Regions from separate parts of the Homo sapiens genome. Here regions 2 and 3 are each linked to region 1. The links come from fine-mapping of genetic effects on gene expression. A gene starts in region 1. Each other region holds a variant in brackets. All regions are shown on one strand. Distances are between the middles of the regions. Region 1 holds the start of B3GAT2 (beta-1,3-glucuronyltransferase 2). Region 2 overlaps B3GAT2 (beta-1,3-glucuronyltransferase 2). Region 3 overlaps SMAP1 (small ArfGAP 1).

The links. PIP is the estimated chance that this variant, and not a neighbour inherited with it, causes the effect.
Region 2: its variant is the best candidate, but not a certain one, in a credible set for the expression of B3GAT2 in lung (GTEx, PIP 0.61).
Region 3: its variant is the best candidate, but not a certain one, in a credible set for the expression of B3GAT2 in coronary artery (GTEx, PIP 0.68).

What each region holds. Positions count from the first base shown.
Region 1 is chr6:70,953,745-70,960,265 of GRCh38, forward strand. B3GAT2 (beta-1,3-glucuronyltransferase 2) reads right to left here and starts at 3,316. Exons shown (of 4, transcript NM_080742.3): 1 at 2,095-3,316. The coding sequence starts at 2,685. It overlaps LOC124901229, which reads left to right and starts at 2,684. Exons shown (of 2, transcript XM_047419611.1): 1 at 2,684-2,784; 2 at 2,888-5,173. The coding sequence starts at 2,684. The coding sequence ends at 3,614. RefSeq lists silencers at 1,908-2,047, 2,518-2,647 and an enhancer at 2,576-3,091.
Region 2 is chr6:70,861,770-70,868,290 of GRCh38, forward strand. B3GAT2 (beta-1,3-glucuronyltransferase 2) reads right to left here. Exons shown (of 4, transcript NM_080742.3): 3 at 61-209. SMAP1 (small ArfGAP 1) reads left to right here. Exons shown (of 11, transcript NM_001044305.3): 11 at 1-234. Among named protein-coding and RNA genes, the nearest start is that of B3GAT2, 92 kb to the right of the region's middle. The variant A/G (reference allele first, on the strand shown) is at 3,323.
Region 3 is chr6:70,698,671-70,705,191 of GRCh38, forward strand. The region is part of intron 1 of SMAP1 (small ArfGAP 1); the gene reads left to right. Among named protein-coding and RNA genes, the nearest start is that of SMAP1, 34 kb to the left of the region's middle. The variant GA/G (reference allele first, on the strand shown) is at 3,723.

The sequences.
Region 1 (6,521 bases):
AAGTTTAGTGTCTTGAAAGTTTTGCGTTTTTCCTTTATAATGTCCTCTCTGACAACACTATTTTTTTCTCCTTACCCTCTCCTCATTTTATATTTTCCCCCATATGGACTAATGAAAAACCTACTGGAATTTTCTCCTGATGCTTAATATCCCCCACCAACAAACCCTCCTTTCAGTTTGGGAAGCATCAAAGGAAGGCTGTGTCCTGAATCATTTCACTGCCTGCGTGTGCCAATTCTTCTAACACCTCACACCAAGAGGCTAGAAGCTCGGAATAAACTAAATCATTCCTCCTTCACAATCTAGCCTCCTACAGTGTTCATTAACAGTAATGTGCACTATTTTACTTCAACAAGACCACATATTGTCACAGACGAGGCAACTTCGAAGTTGTAGAAGAAAATAAAAAGACCTTGCGGTTTAAAAATTGTGGTGCATTGAAATGTACAGTCTTTGCTTCAGATGCAAGCCACTTTTTTCTTTTGGAGGGGGGAGCACTGATGCAGGATTAAAAGCCCAGTTAAAAACGTCAGATGGTATCTCTAATCTTGGGTTGAGTAAGGACCATACTATACAATGCCAAGCTTATTTATTCATTTGGAGAAACGTGGAAAGAAAGCCCTCTACAGTGAAAGGATGGAAAAGAAAAGATGAAGGACAATTACTGTGCCTTTTATTCATGAAAGAGAGGATGAATAGAAATGAAGGCGGCAATTACCTTTAAGAAAATTTTTTTAAAGCCACACAGAAAAATTAAACTGGAAGAGTACAGAATAGCTCTGCCCTGGGGTTAAGAAAGCAACCCAGAGATGAGGATGAAAGTGTGGGAAGCAGTTAGGGTATCTGATGACCAGACACACAGATTATTTTAGCAGTTCAGTGTCCAACTCACACATAGTATTTTCCCAATGTCCAGTTTACTTGGGAGAAGGGGAATTGAGGGGGAGTCTCTGAAGCAGGACGTCAAGAAATTTCAGGTGGAGGAAGGCAACAGTCTCACAGGGCGTCAAATCAATCAAGAAGATTTTCTTTGGCTGTAATTGCGTAGACAGAAGAAAACTGAGAAAACCCATGCCACTCAGTCTCATTTGCAGGCTACACACACACACACCGCAAGATACCAGCCTCAAGGAAGAACACCTGTTCTAACCCTGTGCCTGCCGGGGGCGGCGGGGGGGGGCGGTGCGCGCGTGGCCATCCCAGGGAACTCATGGGCCATCTCAACAGCAGGGAGCCCGGATGCACTCAGGACCTGGCTGCACCAGAAAGACGCAAAAGGCCCCGCCAAATGTGTCCTGGCTAACTCGCCAAAAAGAGGCCTTAGAGAAAGGTTGTGAAAAGGGATCAGGCAGCCCAGATGTTTACCTTGGGCTGCAAAAAAGACGTAACCACAGGGCAGAACAGTTTATTTTCCAGAAAGGGTTTTCTTGCAAAAAAAAAAAAAAAGTAATCTTGAGGGTCAGAAAAGACTTTTGTGAGGTGTGGGAAAGAGAGGAAGGACCTCCATAGAAGTCAGTGTTTCTTCTAACAACCATTTCCGTGCCAGTGGGCCGCAATAGTCAAATTTCTCTCTAGGCTATCTCCACCTTTCTCCCTATATGGTCCTAGACTGAGAATCACACCTGTAGGCACTGAAAAGCCTCGAGTAACACCTAGCCTACCCGTCCCCACCACCCCCACCCCTCCACCGCCACCCGCTACGGTGCAGGTCCCTCCCTGATCTCCTATCGCAGCCAGCGCCTGCAGGTCTAAGCTCCATCCTCAGGTCGTCAGGAGCCTGGCCCCTGGAAATCATTCCCGCGCCTCACACCTGTGCTATTCTCTTGACACAATCTCCACACAGAAAAGCCCCAGGGCAGACTCCCGCCCCTTAAGCCACAGTGATCCTCTCACACACAGCCCCTCCACCCCCACGGCCAGCGGAGGCTGCGGAGTGCCAGCAAGGAGCGGCTCCACTCGGTGCCCCGAATGCGCGCACGGAGAACTGAGAACTCAAAAGTGCACCCGGAGTGCAAGGGGCGTGTGACTGCAGCCCGGCCGGCCCGGAGGCCCACTCCCGCCCTCGCCCACCCAGCGGGGCAGGCTGGCCTTTACCTCCTGGAAGAGCTCCAGACTATAGGTGTTGTCGTCGTCAGCGAAGAAGAGCACGCCGGGCTGCGCGCGCTGGTGCTGGTGCCTCTGGCGCAGCCAGGCGAGGCCCGCGTTGCGCTGCTCAGTGGCGCGCGGCAGCCCGGGCCGCTTGTAGCGCCGCGGCGTGGGCACGTGCAGGTGAGTGCTGGGCAGCCCGGCCCGCGCCAGGAAGCGGCTCACCAGCTCGCTGCGCGCCGCCGCGTCCTCCACCAGGATCCAGTGCAGCTGCGCCACCTGGCGGAACGTGTTGGCCAGGCGGGTCAGCTCCGCTTTCTGCACCGGGCGGCTGTAGGTGGGCGTGATGGCATAGATGGTGGGCAGCTGCGGCTCCGGCTGTGGCTGCGGCCGAGACTGGTTGCGCTTTTGGGTCCCGTGAGCCGGGCCGCCCCTGCGGAGCGGGAGTCGGGCGCCCCCGCGGCCCACCGCGTAGGGAGAGAAGTAGGGGCGCGGGGTGAGCGGGGGCACTGGCCTGCGCGTGTCCACGTCGAGCATGATGATGACAATTAGGATCCAGGGCAGGAGGATAAAGAAGCGGGTGAAAAGCGCGGACTTCATGGTGCACGCTCCCTGGCCTCTCGGACACCCCAGAGAGGGGCGAGCCGAGGGACCCCAGTGCGCAGCTTGGACAGCGGCGGCGCCAGCACTTAGGGAGTGGTGATGGGTGCGCTGTCCATGGGGCCGAGGGCGCTGCAGAGACCTGGAGCCGCGGGGCTCACTACCTGGGCGTGGAGGAGCGGCAGGTTCGCGCAAGCTAGAGCGACAAGGGGTGCAGGCGGGCGGGCAGGGGCTGCCCCCGACTCCAGGTGAGCTGGCGGGAAGCGGGACTCGGTCCAGCCGCGCGCCGCCGGTCCCGGAGTTGTGCCGAGTGCGGGAAAGGCGCTGATCCCCACCGCGCTCTTTCTGAAGAGTGGAAGCCGAGAAGCGGCACCCGGTGCGCCTCGCCGCTCCAGTCCGGCGGTGCTGCGGGCACAAGGGCTCCAGCCGCGGGCCCCCAGGACGCTCTCTGGGACGCCTTCGAGGGCGGGCGGCGGCGCTGGGGGCTTTCCTTCCTCACATTCCCGCCGGGGTGGCGAGGAGCGGGTGGAGACGCTGGGGGTTGTGTCCCGGCTGTGTTCGCGCGCCGCAGCGGAAGCCTGCTCTCAGTCCCTTGCTCTTGTCTTCTCAGAACCTCTCCGGATCCAGCAGCAAGATCCCAAAGCAAGGAAAGAAAGAAAAAGCGAGGGGGCGGGGGCGCTGCAGAATCCAGCGTCCTCCCAAGTCCTCCTGTGGGAAGACAGCAGCGCTGCTACTGGTGGAGAGGGGCTGCGAGAGGGAGGCGCGGAGGGACCCCTTGGCTCTCCGCCGGGTCTGGCGCTAACGGCCCCGCGAGCAAGCTCGGGAGGCGGCCGCTGCACCGCGGGTGGAGGAGCGGGAGGAGCGTCCCCGCGGGGCTGCACGACCTCCTGGAGGGGGTGATGCTCGTTCACCTCTCTTCAGCTTTGTGAAATACCGCAAGGTCTTTGGAGATGAGCCAGGAAAATCCATTCACGTGCGGAAATTTGCCGGGCTACGCGCGTTGCTGCTGATGCCTAGGGTTCGGAGTGAAAGGAGGGGAGAAAGCGAAGGGATTCCTCCTCCTGCTCCCAGCTGCTGCGTTGATGTGCTGGGGTGTATCGAACAGCGGCAACAAAAAGCGCTTTCACTGCAAGGCAGACATCAATAGGAGCCCACGGAGATGGAGGGGTGCTGCACATAGGTGTTTGGCATGTGAGACAGTCCATAAGAAAGAATCAATTCGGAGGGCTGCTGCCTGACTGCAGTTTGATCATGGCGGGTGGGGGCGGGTGGAATTCCTAAAACTCCAGCCGAGCATGTTTAACTTATTTTTCTTCAGTAATTTGGAGTCACGGTCCCTCCCAGTTCTTCGCTGTCACCGGAATTACTCCGTTTGGCTCTCCCAAGGCTCCTGTCAAGAAGGCCTAAGAAGTAGAATGGCCTTCATTTTCAGGATAAGGAAGCTGAGGTTCAGGGTTTAAAATGATTTCTCTGAGGTCAGTGGCAAGTGGCATATGGAAATAGAACGTGGGTCTCCTGCGTGTGTCTATAGCTAGTGGCGTCCTCACTGCATGGCCTGCAGAAATCCCACCCAACACAGCCGGGCCGGTTTGGCCTTCCTACATATAAAGATGGTGCGATTGAAATCAAACAGAGTGTACCATGACGAATAGAACCATGATAGGGTCTGGAAGACCCCAAGTAAACAGTTGGCACTTAGTTTAGACACTTTTTGCTGTCTAGCTGGCCTACTAGCTGAGTGCCTGACCTTCTGTAACTTACCAGGAAGAAGGGCTGTGCTTCCCAGGCAGGTCCCAGGGAAGTGCTTGCAAAGCAGAAGGAAAGCTCCAGACTGTTCTGCCCTAGCCTATGATAAATAATTTCTGAGCCCATCTTGTCTGGGTTGTCTGCCTTTCTCGGGCTTGTTCACAAATAAATCTCTCTCCGACTGTGCGTTCTGGTGCAACTGAGAGCTCTGGGGCGAATGGCTCTCCAGCTTTTCTGACAGCTCCTCTTCTCCCAGTCCTACCCCTGAACCCCCCACCTGTTAAAAGGCATTGGCTCATCTGTGAATTTCCCTAACTTCCTCTTCAGATTCTGAAACGTGAGAGTGAAATTTCAGACTAACACCCAGCCACCCCAACAACTCCCTAGAGCTAGCCTTCTGTCCCAACTTCCCTGTGCCATCCACAACTCATACATTAAACTCTGCAGATTAGTGCATCCTAAACATAGAAAACAACGAAGCCATTAGACCTCTTCCCATTCTCTCGAATAGCCTAATGTGCCTCTGAATATAACACAACCTTGGAAATGTATTCTGCACCAGCATCATGCCAGGATGGGGAAGAGGAAAGAAGTCAAGGCCTCCCTTTAAGAAAAGGTTTTTCTTAGGAAGCAGTGCACCCCTCTCCCCTAAGTTACTGAAGTCTGGTTCATCCTGTTGGAAATTTTAAATTTGGTTAAAATGCCTTGTGTTTGCTGGAATAAAATTCATGTTGTTACTGAATTGTACTAAAAACATCACTAACCTTTGTTAGTGGGGAACTTTTGGTTGGTCCAACTATGCCATAAAACCTATTTGCTATTACATCCTCTCCAGGAACCAGGGCTATTCAGAGATGAAACACTGTGTGTGTGTGTGTGTGTGTGTGTGTGTGTGTGTGTCTGTGTGTGTGAGAGAGAGAGAGAGAGAGAAAGACAGACAGACAGGGTCTCTCTTCAATGCCAAGGCTGGGGTGCAGTGACTTGAACACAGCTCACTTCAGTCTCGATGTCCTGGGCTCAAGCAATCCTCCTGCCTCAGCTTTTTGAGTAGCAGGAACTACAGATATAAGCTGCTACACCCTGCTAATTTTTTCATTTTAGTTTTTGTAGACTGGGGTCTCCTATTACCCAAGATGGTCTTGAACTCCTGGGCTCAAGCAGTCCTTATGCCTTGGCCTCCCAAAGTGCTGGGATTACAGATGTAAGCCATTGTGCCTAGCCCAAAGCACTTTCAAAATCAATTGAATTTGCAGTTTGAGACTTTAGCTCATGCCCAGAATTCATGGGTGTCATAAAACACAACACTTAATTAGCACATCACAGACTGTCACTTCATTTTTTTCTATTACCCTTAGCATTTGTACCCAGGTTTATTTCATTCAGTCATCTGTTGGGGAGCTTCATGGTTCTTGGAGTCAGGCAGACCTGGGTTTGAGTCCCCTCTGGGATACTTTCTACTGTGCAACTTTAGAAAATCAGTGAACCTCCCAAGGCCTGTTTCCTCATCTGGAAAATGGGGTTAATAATACATACTCCATGGGAATCTTGCAAGGATTAAATGGTGTATGTTGGGTAGTTTGAAGAAGAGCCATTATTACACAGGCAGTCAATAAATGATATTTCAATACAGATAACCCTTCCTCAAAAGAACACCTTAACACAAGAGATCTTGATGGATCATCGTTATCAAATGAATATAAAATGAAATCTAAACAGGACTGATAATGCTTCTAAATAGTACCTCTGCTTGTAATGAAGATAATTCCTAGAGTGTATGTTAGAGTCTTCCCAAGTTGGTCTAGGGAGTGGAAGAAAGAAGAAATAAATTTACCCCAAATGCAAGGTATAGCTTGTCATGCAATAAGGATGACATGATTCCAAGTGACATTTATTTCAGATGGCTGAATATGCCATATTGTTTTACATTAAGCCACTCAATATGTGGCCCCGAATCTCTTATGATCAAATCTGAGCAAAGATATAAAGATACGAAAATTATCATTAAGGATGTCCATTAGAAGTACAAAACCAGGGCAAAACATTTTTAAGTGCAAAAACTTATACTTTAAAAATATGTCACGAGTCTATCA
Region 2 (6,521 bases), 92 kb before region 1:
TTGGGTAGCGCACTCTTCATGGTGACACTCGAGGTCGGGCAGCACAAGTGTAATGAATACCTTAGTGCAGTTATTTGCTTTCGGTTCCAGTTCTTCGACTGTTGTTATCTGTTTGAGAAAGTCAGATTCTTGCATCCCTGGCTGGGATCCACGACGCTTAAATACAGCTTTTGGATTGGACAAAATGACTTGAAGACTTACAGCAAATCCTTTGTGAAAAATAAAAAAAAAAAAGAGACTTTAAAATCCTGGTGTACTTCTCTTTTTTTCTGTATAATTTTGGTCACATCAAAACAGTTTTTAAAATACCTACTGTGTGTCAGGTCTTGGTTTACAAAGTTGAATAGGAACATTACCTGTATTACAGTCTCAAAGGAAAATCAGTCATTACAATATTTTACATTCCGTGTAAAATAAAGGCGTGCACAGGAGCATCTACGCAAAATAGGAAGTTTAGTCTGTTGATAATAAAGGGTGAATTTTATAAGCTGCTGTTTCACAGTGATCATCAACCCCCCACATTTGCCACTAGGAATAACTAAGAAATAAATGCAGCTGAAAAACATACATGCTTACCTAACTACATGTGGGGTATGAGACCACATGCCCAGCTCTCCTGCCTGCCCTGTAATATTAATTATGTATGCTTCCTTAAATCCAGCACTGCTTGGATTCATTTTGCATTTAGAAGAGGGAGCAACAGAAGTAAAGCCGATTAGCTGGAAAATGAATCATACCTAATTTTTAATCATCTGGTTTATATTTCTAATTTGGTTCAATCTAAAAAGGGTATGTGGGGCAGAAATCAGTGCAGGAGATATCAGGCCATCATCTGATAAAGTTTTTTTTTGGTATTTCATTTACCAAAAATAAGTGTAAATTTTCTTCAATGGTTTGGTCATACGAAAAATCATTACTGGCTGGGCACAGTGTCTCACATCTGTAATCTCAGCACTTTGGGAGGCCAAGGCAGAAGGATCTCTTGAGCCCAGGAGTTCAAGACCAGCCTGGGCAGCATAATGAGACCCTGTCTCTACAAAAAATACAAAAATTAGCTGGGTGTTGTGGCACGTGGTGCGTGCCTGTAGTCCCAGCTACTTAGGAGGCTGAGGTGGGAGGATTGCCTGAGCCTATGAGGTTGTGGCTGCTGTGAGCTATGACTGTGCCACTGCAACTCCAGCCTGGGCAACAGAATGAGGCCCTGTCTCAAAGAAAAAAGAATCATTCGTATTTAATCTGTAGTTTAACAAACTGTTTAAAGCTCAGCCATTGAAGCACTCTACAATTGTTTTTGCCATCTCAGCAAGTAATAATTGTTTTGAAGGTCTGAAGCCCTGGATCTCTTTTTCCTTAGTGACTAAGGTGATACTGTCAAGTCAGGCACCCTCCCAGAGTTGAAGCTCCGGGCACCAACCCACAAAACATTTCTCAGCAACTTTTGCCCTTCTCTACATTAAATGAGTTGATTTATGATTCAGTTTGCAAAGTAATACTAAATGATACCAGGTGGTAATGGAGGAGCTGTGAAAACACCACAACCACCATCCTCTCCAGATGCCAGACTGGGCCAGTCTCCTGTTCCAGACCCTGCTGCCTTTTGGAGAAAAGTTAACACTAAGCCACTTACAAACATAACGTGGTACAGCAGGTGCTGAGTGAAGCAGAACAAAGAATCATAAAGCATTAGCTGTAGGACTAGCCCCAGTATCGATACCTCCACCAACCCTAAAGGGAGGGAGGTGGCACATTTTAGCAGAGAATACTGGATTTGGAATTAGAAGCCTTTTGTTTTTGCCTAGGTCCCTGCCCCTGGGACACTGGCCAACTCATTTAACCTTTCTTGATTTTCTAACTTCCCCATTTCTTTATTTGCGAGAGAAGTGTAACACTTCAACTCAATGTTTGATGAAAAATTGAGGTATGGAAAGACTCCACTGACTGCAAAGCACTGTTCAAAAGATACTACAATATATAAATAAAAATACTATTGTCAGTGTGATCATGAGGGGCAGGTGATGCCAGCCACCATTTATGGCTGAAAGAATACTGGTTGACAGATGTAAAAGGTTTGGGAAAGTTCCAGGTAGCAAAGCCAGGACACCTACATGTGATAGCAACTCTGGTAACAAGTCCACAGCCTTCCTTAGACACAACTAGGACAACCACCAGACACCTCAACAAAAGCCAGAGGTTCAAATTGATAACGTAGTGTCCTTTCCAACAGGTCAGATCAGATTTTAGTGTTAAAAGATTTCTTGCTTTTTCCCACATGCTTATAAATAAGCTTTATCCTTTTTTTTTTTTTTTTTTTTTTAAATTCAGATGAGAGCCTACCCTTCTCAGTCATACTGAAACTCCTGATACATTCTTCACATGGCTTCAGGATACTGGTTGTATTTCCCCATTCTCTCAAAAACATGGGATCCAAATTGTGCAGAGGTGATTTCTGGAAATGATATGGAGCCACCTGGATCTGATTTCCTTCATTTTCCCCTAAGACTTTAACACATTAACCATCACGACCACTGAAGGATTCAGATTCTTTTGTTGCTTTCCTTAGCACAGGAATATCCTTCCAGCGCTTCACACAGAATGACATGGCAAAATCTACAATTTATGTAAAGTTAACAGCCAGTTGTGAAGCTATACATCATTTTGCAGCAAGGTCTCCTTTCCTGGTGTCACTAGAGAATGGTGCGCACCTGAAAGGCCAGCACCCTGGAGACATGTTAGCCTGTGGCTCTCCACAGTACCCAAGTGTTTTTCTATTCTCTAATACAAAGGGGTGGAGGAGCACAATTCAGATGCCCCACAATCAGCTAACGCAATTTCCTTTGCTCAGTGATCTCTTGAAAGGAAGCAGGTCACAGCTGGCAGGAGAGACTGCATGTTAACTAGGTCAACCCCTGGGTTACTTTTGGGGAATCTGACCCGCTGTGAAGCTGGGGGCAGAGTTAAAGAGTTCTCCCCTCTGAAATCACAGTAAAGGGAATCCTAAACCATTGATTTCCAACCTAAGATGTTTTCTTGGGTAATTCCAAGTATTTATACTTCAAGTATTATATCTTTCCTTTTTTAGTGAGATTCGTTATCTTTAAAGATGTTGGTTACTTTGGAGATGCTTACGAAAGTCATGGGAGTAGGATTTTCTGCCCTGGTCAGCTGAGTAAAAAAAAAAATGCAAATAAAAATGATTGTTCACTGAGAAGGCAGGATTTCCTGACTTCTTCAGCAGAGCTAGGTGGGGAGGATACACAGTCACCCTCTGTATCTGCAGATGCATCTGCAGATCCAACTAACCTCAGATTAAAAATATCTGAAA[A/G]TAAAACAAAAAAATGACAATACAACAAGAAATAATAGGGCTTTTTTGTTTTTGGACAGAGTTTCACTCTTGTTGCCCAGGCTGGAGTGCAGTGGCACAATCTCGGCTCACTGCAACCTCTGCCTCCTGGGTTCAAGTGATTCTCCTGCCTCAGCCTCCCGAGTAGCTGGGACTACAGACGTGGGCCTGGCTAATTTTGTATTTTTAGCAGAGACGGGGTTTCACTATGTCGGCCAGGCTGGTCTTGAACTCCTGACTTCAAGTTATCTGCCCCCCTCGGCCTCCTAAAGTGCTGGGATTACAGGCGTGAGCTACAGCAGCCAGTCAAAATAATACAAGTTTTAAAGCTATATAGTATAACAACAATTTGCATGGCATTTGCATTGTATTAGGTAAGTAATCTAGAGATGATTTAAAGTATACAGGAGGATCTGCCTAGGTTATATGTAAACACTATATCAGGGACTTGAGCGTCCATGGATTTTGGTATGAGTAGCAGTCCTGAAACCAATTCCCTATGGATACTCAGGAATAACTATTCCCTCTCAGGCAGAGGGATAGGGCCTACCTCCATATATGATTACTGATTACTGAGTAGAAAATTTGTAAGACTTTAAAAGTCCAACAAGCTATTTACATTTCTGGACAAAATTGCAATAGGGACTGGTTTTTCCTCACTTGTTTTAAATAACAAAAAGGCAGACAAAATGATTGAAAAAAGTTTCCAGACATTGGAAAAGAGGCACATGAGACAGAGATCTCTGAGAAAAGAGAAATGTGACCCCTACAACTGCCCCAGCTTCCTGCCTGAAGTATGTTTTCAGGCTACACCACAGGGAGGGGAACCCGGAAAGCTCTGCAGTCCCCTTGAATTGAGGAAACAACTGAGAATTTGAGGAGGCCAAGACAACTAGGATATGCAGGGTGGAGTACTAGAGAAGGAAGAACTCTGCTGATCTGTAGACAGCTCTCCTCAACTCTTCAACTGAGTATGAAGAGCAAATGCTCACACAACTACCTCAGGCCAGGTACAGAACCACTGGCAAGGAGCAGGTGAATCAATTACTGGAGGGGACTAGTTCCCATTCTCAGTAGCCAGAGTGGAGCTACCTAGTAACAGCTGGAGCACCTGGAGGAGAACTTGGAAGGTTATCGTGCCTGTTGTAAGGTCAAATTGATTAGCCCTAAACTAGAGGCTGAGATGGTTTTGCCTAACAAACTTCAAAAGCAAGCCTGGAAAGGATCAAAATGTTTCCAAGTTAACTCAGTTGTGTCCCAGTACAAAGCTCAAGAATACATATGTATTTATAATATAGTATAACATTACATATATATGTGTTTTTATGTATGGTTGTGTGTATACATATATGTCTCTCTCATCCAGTATCTAGCAACATAAAATTCAAAATGCCTGATGCCCAAGACACCTCAGTGATGAAAAATACAATGTCTGAGATGAAAAATACATTGGATGGGATTAGCAGCAGAGGAGACACTGCAGAATAAAAGTTGAGTAAACTCGAACACATAATGATAGAAACTACCAAAATGAAACAGAAAAGGCAAGACCAACACACACACACCGTACAGAGTCACAGGAACAGAGTCAAAGGTGAATGAATGAGGGAGACAGGGAAAAAAATTTGAAGAAATGACGACTGAAAAATTTACAAACTTGAAAACTCAGGAAAGATATGTAAGACTTAAATAACATTTTCAACTACACCTAAATGACATTTATAGAACACTCCACCCAACAACAGCAGAATACAATCTTTTAAAGTACACATGGAACATTATCACGATAGTTAGACCATAGTCTGGGCCATAAATCTGTCTCAATACATTTAAAATAATTTAAATTGTACAAAATATGTTTTCTGACTACAGTGGAATTAAAATAGATATCAGTAAATACAAAGATACCTGGAAAATATCCCAAATATTTGGAAACTAAACAATATAATTCTAAGCAAAATACAAACCAAAGAAGAAATCAAAAGGGAAATGATAAAGTGGTTAACTGAATGAAAATGAAAACAAGACATATCAAAATGTGTAGGATACATCTAAAGGAGTGTTTAGATGGGAAACTAGTTTTTAGAAAACATTAAGCACTTACTGGATAAGAAAGGTCTGAATTCAATAACCTAAGCTCCTACCTTTATAAATTAGAAAAAGAAAGCAAATGAAGCCCAAAGTAAATGGAGAAAACGACTATACTAATAGATATGAGAGCAGAAACGACTAAAGTAGAAATAGAAAACAATTGAGAAGATAAGTGAAATAAAAACCTAGTCATTTAGGAAAAAAAAGTTAATAAAATTGATAAACTCTACCCATGCTTATCAGGAAAAAGAGAAGATATAAATTACCAGCCTCAGAAATGAAAGAGATAGGTTCTACAAACCTTAAAATGATAATATGGGGCTATTATAAGCAACTTTTTATGATAGTAAATTTGACAACTTAGATCAAAATAGAAAAAGTCCTTGAAAGACAAGCTACAAGGCTCACTCATGAAGAAATAGATAATGTGAAATAGCCCTGTATCAAATAAATTAAGTTTATAATTAAAATCTTCCACACACATACACACAACCCTCCAGGACCAGAGAGCTTCACTGGTAAATTCTACCAAGCATTTAAGGAAGAAATGACAGCAATTCTACATGAATTTTTCTAGAAAATAGAAAAGGAGGAAATCTTTCTCAAGTTATCCTGTAAGACCAGCATTGCCCTGATACCAAAACCAGACAAAAACATTACAAGAAAACTACAGACTAATAATCCTCATGATCACAGAAAAATTCTCAAAATTTTAGCAAATCAAATTCAACAATAAAAAGACAATAAATCATGACCACTTGAGGATTATCTCCAGATTGCAATGTTGGTTTAAAATTTCAAAATCAATCAATGTAATTCACCATATTAGCAGACTAAAAAAAAAAATCTGACTATCACAATAGCTGGAGAAAATGCTTTGACAAAATCTAACATCTAGTCATAATGAAAAGAAGAAATAAAAGCCTCTCAGCAAACTAAGACTAGAAGTGAACTTTCTCAACTTAATAAGGACATCTACAAAAATACCTAATGCCAACATTATACTTAATTGGTGAAAGACTGAGTGTTAAATCCCTGAAGATTGGAATGAGGCAAGGATGGCTGCTCTTGACTTTTATTCAACAAAGTC
Region 3 (6,521 bases), 260 kb before region 1:
TGAGAGACTCTGACGCATTCTTCAGTATGTCAGTTGAATTTTTCAGGTTCAGAATTTCTGCTTGATTTTTAGTTATTTCAATCTCTTGTTAAATTTATCCGATAGAATTCTGAATTCCTTTTCAGTGTTATCTTGAATTTTGTTGAGCTTCGTCAAAACAGCTGTTTAGAATTCTCTGCCTGAAAGGTCACATATCTCTGTCACTCTGGGATTGATCATTTGTGCCTTATTTAGTTCATTTGGGGAGGTCATGTTTTCTTGGATGGTCTTGATGCTTGTGGATGTTTGTTGATGTCTGGGCATTGAAGAGTTAGGTATTTATTGTGGTCTTTTCTGTCTAGGCTTGTTTGTCCTCATCCTTCTTGGGAAGGCTGTCCAAGTATGCAAAGGAATTGAGTGTCCTGATCTAAGTCTTTGCTTATTGCAGCTGCATCTGCATTAGTGGGGACCCAGACCCAGTAACACTGACTCTTGCAGACCGGTAGAGGTACTGCTTTGGTGGTCTTAGGTGAGATCTGAGAGAATTCCCTGGATTACCAGGCAGAGACTCTTGTTTTCTTCCCTTACTTTCCTGCAAACAAATGGAGTCTCTCTCTCTGTGCAGAGCTTCCTGCGGCTGAGGGAGGGATGAAACAAGTACCCATGTGACCACCACCACTGGGACTGCGCTGGATTAGACCTGAAACCAGCATAGCACTGAGTCTTACCCGGGACCTGTGGCGACCACTGCCTGGCTACCACTGATGTTCTCTCAAGGCCCAAGAGCTCTTCAGTCAGCAGGTAGTGAATCCGGCCTGGCTTGTATCCTCCCTTCAGGACAGCGAGCTCTCCACTGGCCCAAGGTGGGTCCAGAAATGCCTGAGAACCAGGGCTTGGAGTCAGGAAGCTTAGGATTCCACTTAATGCACTGTTCTGCTGTGGCTGAGTTGGCATCCAAGCTGCAAGACAAAGTTCTTAACATTCTTCCCTCTCCTTTCTTCAAGTGGTAGTCTTTCCTCATGACCACCACTGCCCAAGGCCTGTGGTGAGTACTGCCTCGCCACTGCTGATGTTAACGTAAGGTCCGAGGGCTCTTCAGTGAGTTTGTAGTAAATGTTGCCAGGCCTGGGTCTCTCCCTTCAAGGCAGTGGGCTCCTCTTTGGCCCAGGGTGGGTCCAGAAATGCCATCCAGGAGCCAAGGCCTGGAATCTGGGATCCTAGGAGCCTGCTTGGTGCTCCACACCACTGTGACTTAGCTGGCAACCAAACTGTAAGACAAAGTCCCCGTTATTCTTCCCTTTCCTTTCCTCAAGCAGAAGGTGATATGGTTTGGGTATTTGTCACACCCAAATCTCATGTTGAGATGTTGTATTCCCCAGTGTTGGAGGTGGGGCCTGGTGGGAGGTTTGTGGGTCACAGGAATGGATTCCTCGTACCTTCGTGCTGTTCTTGAGATAGTGAGTGAGTTCTCATGAGATATGATTATTTAAAAGTGTGTGGCACCTCCCTCTGCCCCTTGCTCCTTCTCTCGCCATATGGCCTGCAAGCACCTGCTTCACCTTCTGTCGTGAGTAAAAGCTCCCTGAGGCTTCCGCAGAAGCCAAGCACATGCTGGTGCCATAATTGTACAGCCAGCAGAACAGTGAACCAATTAAACCTCTTTTCTCTTTTCAGACAGTCTCACTGTCACCCAGGCTGAAGTGCAGTGGCATGATCTCGGTTCACTGCAACCTCCATTTCCCAGGTTCAAGCGATTCTTGTGCCTCAGCCTCCAGAGTAGCTGCGATTACAGGATGTACCACCATGCCTGGCTAATTTTTGTGTTTTTAGTAGAGATGGAGTTTCACCATGTTGGCCAGACAGGTCTCAAACTCCTGGCCTCAAGTGATCCACCTGCCTTGGCCTCCCAAATTGCTGGGATTACAGGTGTGAGCCATGGCACCCAGCCTAAACTTCTTTTCTTTGTAAATTACCCAGCCTCAGATATTTATGTATAGTAACAGAAGAACGACCTAATACAGAAGGAGTCTCTCCCCATAGCCACCACAGCTGTGAACATGGTGGGTCATGCTTGAAGCCTGCATGGCACTGGGTCTTACCCAAGGCCTGCAGCAAGTTCTACTTGGCTACTAGCAAGTACCGGCAAGTATTACCTGCTGGTGTTTGTTCAAGACCCAAGGGCTCTTTAGTCAGCAGGTAATGGATCCTGCCAGAACTGTGTCCTTCCCTTCAAGGCAGTGGGTTCCCTTCTGGCCCAGGGTGTGTCTAGAATTGTCATCGGGGAGCTAGGTCCTGGAATGGGGGCCTCAGGACTCTGCCTGGTGCTCCATTCTCTTGTGGATGAACTGATATCCAAGTTGCAAGGCAAAGTCGTCTTTACCCTCCCCTCTTCTCTCCTCACACGGAAGGAAGGAGTCTCTCCTAGAGCTGTGAGCTGTGCCACCTGGGATTGGGGGAGTGGTGATGCAAGCACTCCCTTGGCTGCCCCAGCTGGTATCTCAGCTCACTGCTACCTCCACCTCCTAGGCTCAAGCAATCCTTCTACCTCAGCCTTCCTAGTAGCTGGGACTATAGGCACACACCACCATGCCTGGCTAATTTTTTTGTATTTTTGGTAGAGATGGGTTTTGCCATGTTTCCCAAGCTTGTCTCGAACTCCTGAGCTCAAGTGATCCACCCGGCTCTGGATCACAGGCATGAGCCACCATGCCTGGCCTGGTGTCTTACTAGGTCACGTGCACCCAAAGTCCACTGGCTGCAAGCCCAGCACAGCACCGGGACTTGCCTAGGGATTGCAGTCCTTGTGGCCAAGACTGCCTTTCAAGTTTATTTAGGACCCTAGAGTGCTTTAGCATGCACTGGTGGGACTAGCCAGAACTCAGGTTCTCGCTGCTGGGATGGATGATTTTCCTCTGGTTAAGGCTGGTATAAAAGTTCCTTCCTTGGGCCCCAGCTGATTTCTGCCCTGTGTCGCTTCCCACCATGATTGGCAGGACAGAGTTTCAATGCCAAGTCCCACAATCACTGCGTTCTCCCTTCCCCAAGCACACATTCTCTCTCTGTCATACAGCTGCTGTCCAGGGGGTTGAGGAGGGTAGTGTAGGCAATTCAAAATTGTCTTCCCTAACCTCTTCAGTGCCCCTTTTCTCAATATGATATTAAAACCAGATACTTTGGTTCTTATGAAGGTGATTTCTTGTGTGGATAATTGTTCAATTTGGTGTTCCTGCAGGGGAGATGATTATTGGTTCTGTTTGTTCATCTTGCTCTGCCTCCTACTTCATTGATTACTTTCCTGACCTTTATTTCACCTTTGTTTTCAAAAGATGTTTTAGTATGGCAAAAAGTTCTACGTTGACAGTATTTTACTTTCAGTACTTTTAAGATATTTTGCTGTTTGTGAGTTTCCGTTGATTTTGTGAGAAATCTGTCATCATTGTATGTTCCTTTGTCCGTAATGCCTTTTCCCCCAGCTTCTTTTAAGATTTTTTTCTGTTTATCCTTAGTTTTAATCAGTTTGATTATGAATTGTCTTTTGGTAGCTTTCTTCATGTTTCTTTTTTGGGGGGGGTTCCTTTGAGGTTCTTGGTTCTATGGGTTTATAGTTTTCAATGCATTTGGAAAAAATTCTGCAATTATTTTACTTTTTCTGTCACTCCACCTCTTAATTTGGGAATTCCAATTAAAAGTTAATTAGGTTGCTGAAACTGCTGCAGAGCTCAGTTACATGCTTTTTTTTTGGG[GA/G]GGGGGTCTGTTTATTTGTTTCATTTTAGATAGTTGCTATTGCTTTGTCTTCACATTCTTTTAGCAGTTTTTTCTTCTTGATTGTCTCATCTCTTAATTCTATCCAGTGTAGTTCTTATCCCAGTCATTATAGTTTGCATCTTATAGAAGTTTGATTTGGATCTTTTGTGTCCACACACACATGCACTCCATGCCTCATGCCTCTTCTTCACATGTTCAGCCTTTCTTTCTTCTTCTTCTTCTTCTTCTTTTTTTTTTTTTGAGGCAGAGTCTAGCTCTTTTACCCAGGCTGGAGTTGAGTGGTGTGATCTCAGCTCACTGCAACCTCCCAGGCTCAAGCCATTGTCCCACCTCAGCCTCCTGAGTAGCTGGGACTACAGGTGCGCACCACCACACCTGGTTAATTTTTGTGTTTGTTATAGAGACAGGGTCTTGGCCCTGTTGCCCAGGCTGGTCTCGAAATCCTGAGTGCAAGCAGTTCACCTGCTTTGGCCTTCCAAAGTGCTGGGATTACAGGCATGAGCCACTGTGCCTGTCCCCATGTTCAGTCTTTCTTATAGCTTCTTGAACATATAGAAGTCAATGATAATGGATTTTGTGCCTTGCGTGCTAATTCAAGTGTAATTTGAGGGTTTGTTTCGATTGATTGACTTTCCTCCTTTTTATAGATTATGTTTTCCTTTTTTCACGACTTTTTTTTTTGAGACAGAGTCTCGCTCTGTCACCCAGGCTGGAGTTCAGTGACACGATATGGCTGACTGCAACCTCTGCCTTCTGGGCTCAAGCGATTCTCCTGCTTCAGCCTCCCAAGTAGTTGGGATTACAGATGCCTGCCACCATGCTCAACTAATTTTTGTATTTTTAGTAGAGACAGGGTTTCACCATGTTGGCCAGGTTGGTCTTGAACTGATCTCAAGTGATCCGCCCACCTCGGCCTCCCAAAGTGGTGGGATTACAGGTGTGAGCCACCACGCTCAGCCAGCATTTTTCAATTGAATGCTAGATATGGGAATTGTATCGGTTCCTGATATTTTTGTATTTTTATAAATATTTTTGACCTTTTTTCTTGGATGCAGTTAAGTTACTTGGAAATAGCCTGACTTTTTCAGATCTTGCTTTTAAGCTTTACTAGGTGAGACTACAGGACTTTATAGAATTAATTTTTCCATTAGTGAGGCAAAAATTCTTCGAATACCATATCTGATGATCCATTAATAATAAAGTTTTCAAGTTAGTTTCCTCTAATTGTTTTGGGTGGGGTTTTCCCTACCTTCTGTAGTTTCCTCACACACGTGCACCAATCAGTACTCAATTAAATATTCAGTGATGACTTTTTGCATGTTTAAGGAGTTTTCTCTCTGTGCATCTCTCTCCTCTTGTATGCTGCCTTATGAAATTCAGCCACCTTAGTCTCTGTGAACTCCTAGATCCATTTCCTGGAGTTAGGGAGGCCACTGGGCTGCCCCTGGATTTATCTTCCCTTTGCCATGGCCTAGACACTTTCCCTGGACAGTAAGCTGAGTTCATTGTAAGGCTCTCACCTAGTTTGTTTTCCATCTCTTGATTTCCAGTTTCTTCAGCAATGTGTTATATATTTTGTTTGGATTTAAAGTTGCTTTAGTCGATTGGGCAAATTTCAGCGTCTGTTCCTTCATATTTTGGTTAGAAAACAACTCAATATGGTATTTTAGTAGAAAAAGCCATGAAAAGAAAATTACTTTTAAACCCCTTGTTTCTTTTTATTGAAACTTATATTTTTCCTAGGCTCATTGAAGAGAACAGTTACATTTAAGTTTATTTATAACATCTGTCCTCATGTAATTTTTAGAGCTATTAACAAATTACAGGAGAAAATGAAAACTATTGATGTTACTAGTACTCTTCTGTTCCAATGAAAGCTTGATACTGCTAAGTGAATGATACAAAACAAGTTAATCCATTACTCCTCCTGATTCTTTGAAGTCTGAATCAACTTATAGAGGAAATCTCCTGTGATGTGCTGTGCTCTTCATATATAAATTTGATTGTATTTTGCTGACTGCTAATATTACAGATTTTTTTTTCAAGTCAAATTAAAATGGTTATATTCTGCAGCAAGTTATTTAAATTGTTCATGTTTCAAATAACGTCTCCTTCCATTTCATAGAATGGTGAAAACATCTGTTTATGTAATTATAGTTTGCTGTTGTCAAACTGGTACAGAATTTGCCTTAGTCTTTGAGTTTATTCTTCCTGCTAAAATGCAAACAAGGCTAATATATTCCACAGTTGTATTTGTTAAAAATCTTTATATAGCAATTTTCATTGTTACTGATATCAAAGACATTAAGTGGGATTAGTCAACCGTATCCATTATTTGTGAGCTTGAAAGACAAGAAAGTAGTTGGACTCTGCATCTAATTCAGAGTGTCATTTTAGCCATCAGTTTCTGCTTCTCCTTATATCAAGACTTTTAAAAAGCAAAAGTTCTAATATATGGAGACATTTATTATTTTAGTTAATTTTTCCACTTCAAGCTGAAAGGGGCTATTAATTGAACAGGCAGGCATCCAAAGACAAATATCTAACTTGTTTTTCTCTGTCTTGCTTTCTTGGGATTTGTAGTTCATGATGGCAGACTCTCATCTGTTTTATTTCCCTGAGGATACCCAGTAACTAGAAAGTTCTTGGCATATAGTAAGCATTAACCACATTTTTGATGACAGTGAGTCAATGAATGAGTGAATGAACAATTAAGCTTCTGAGTCTTTTCCCTTCTTCCATATCTCATCCATCTTTCCAGGCCTAGTTCAAAGTTA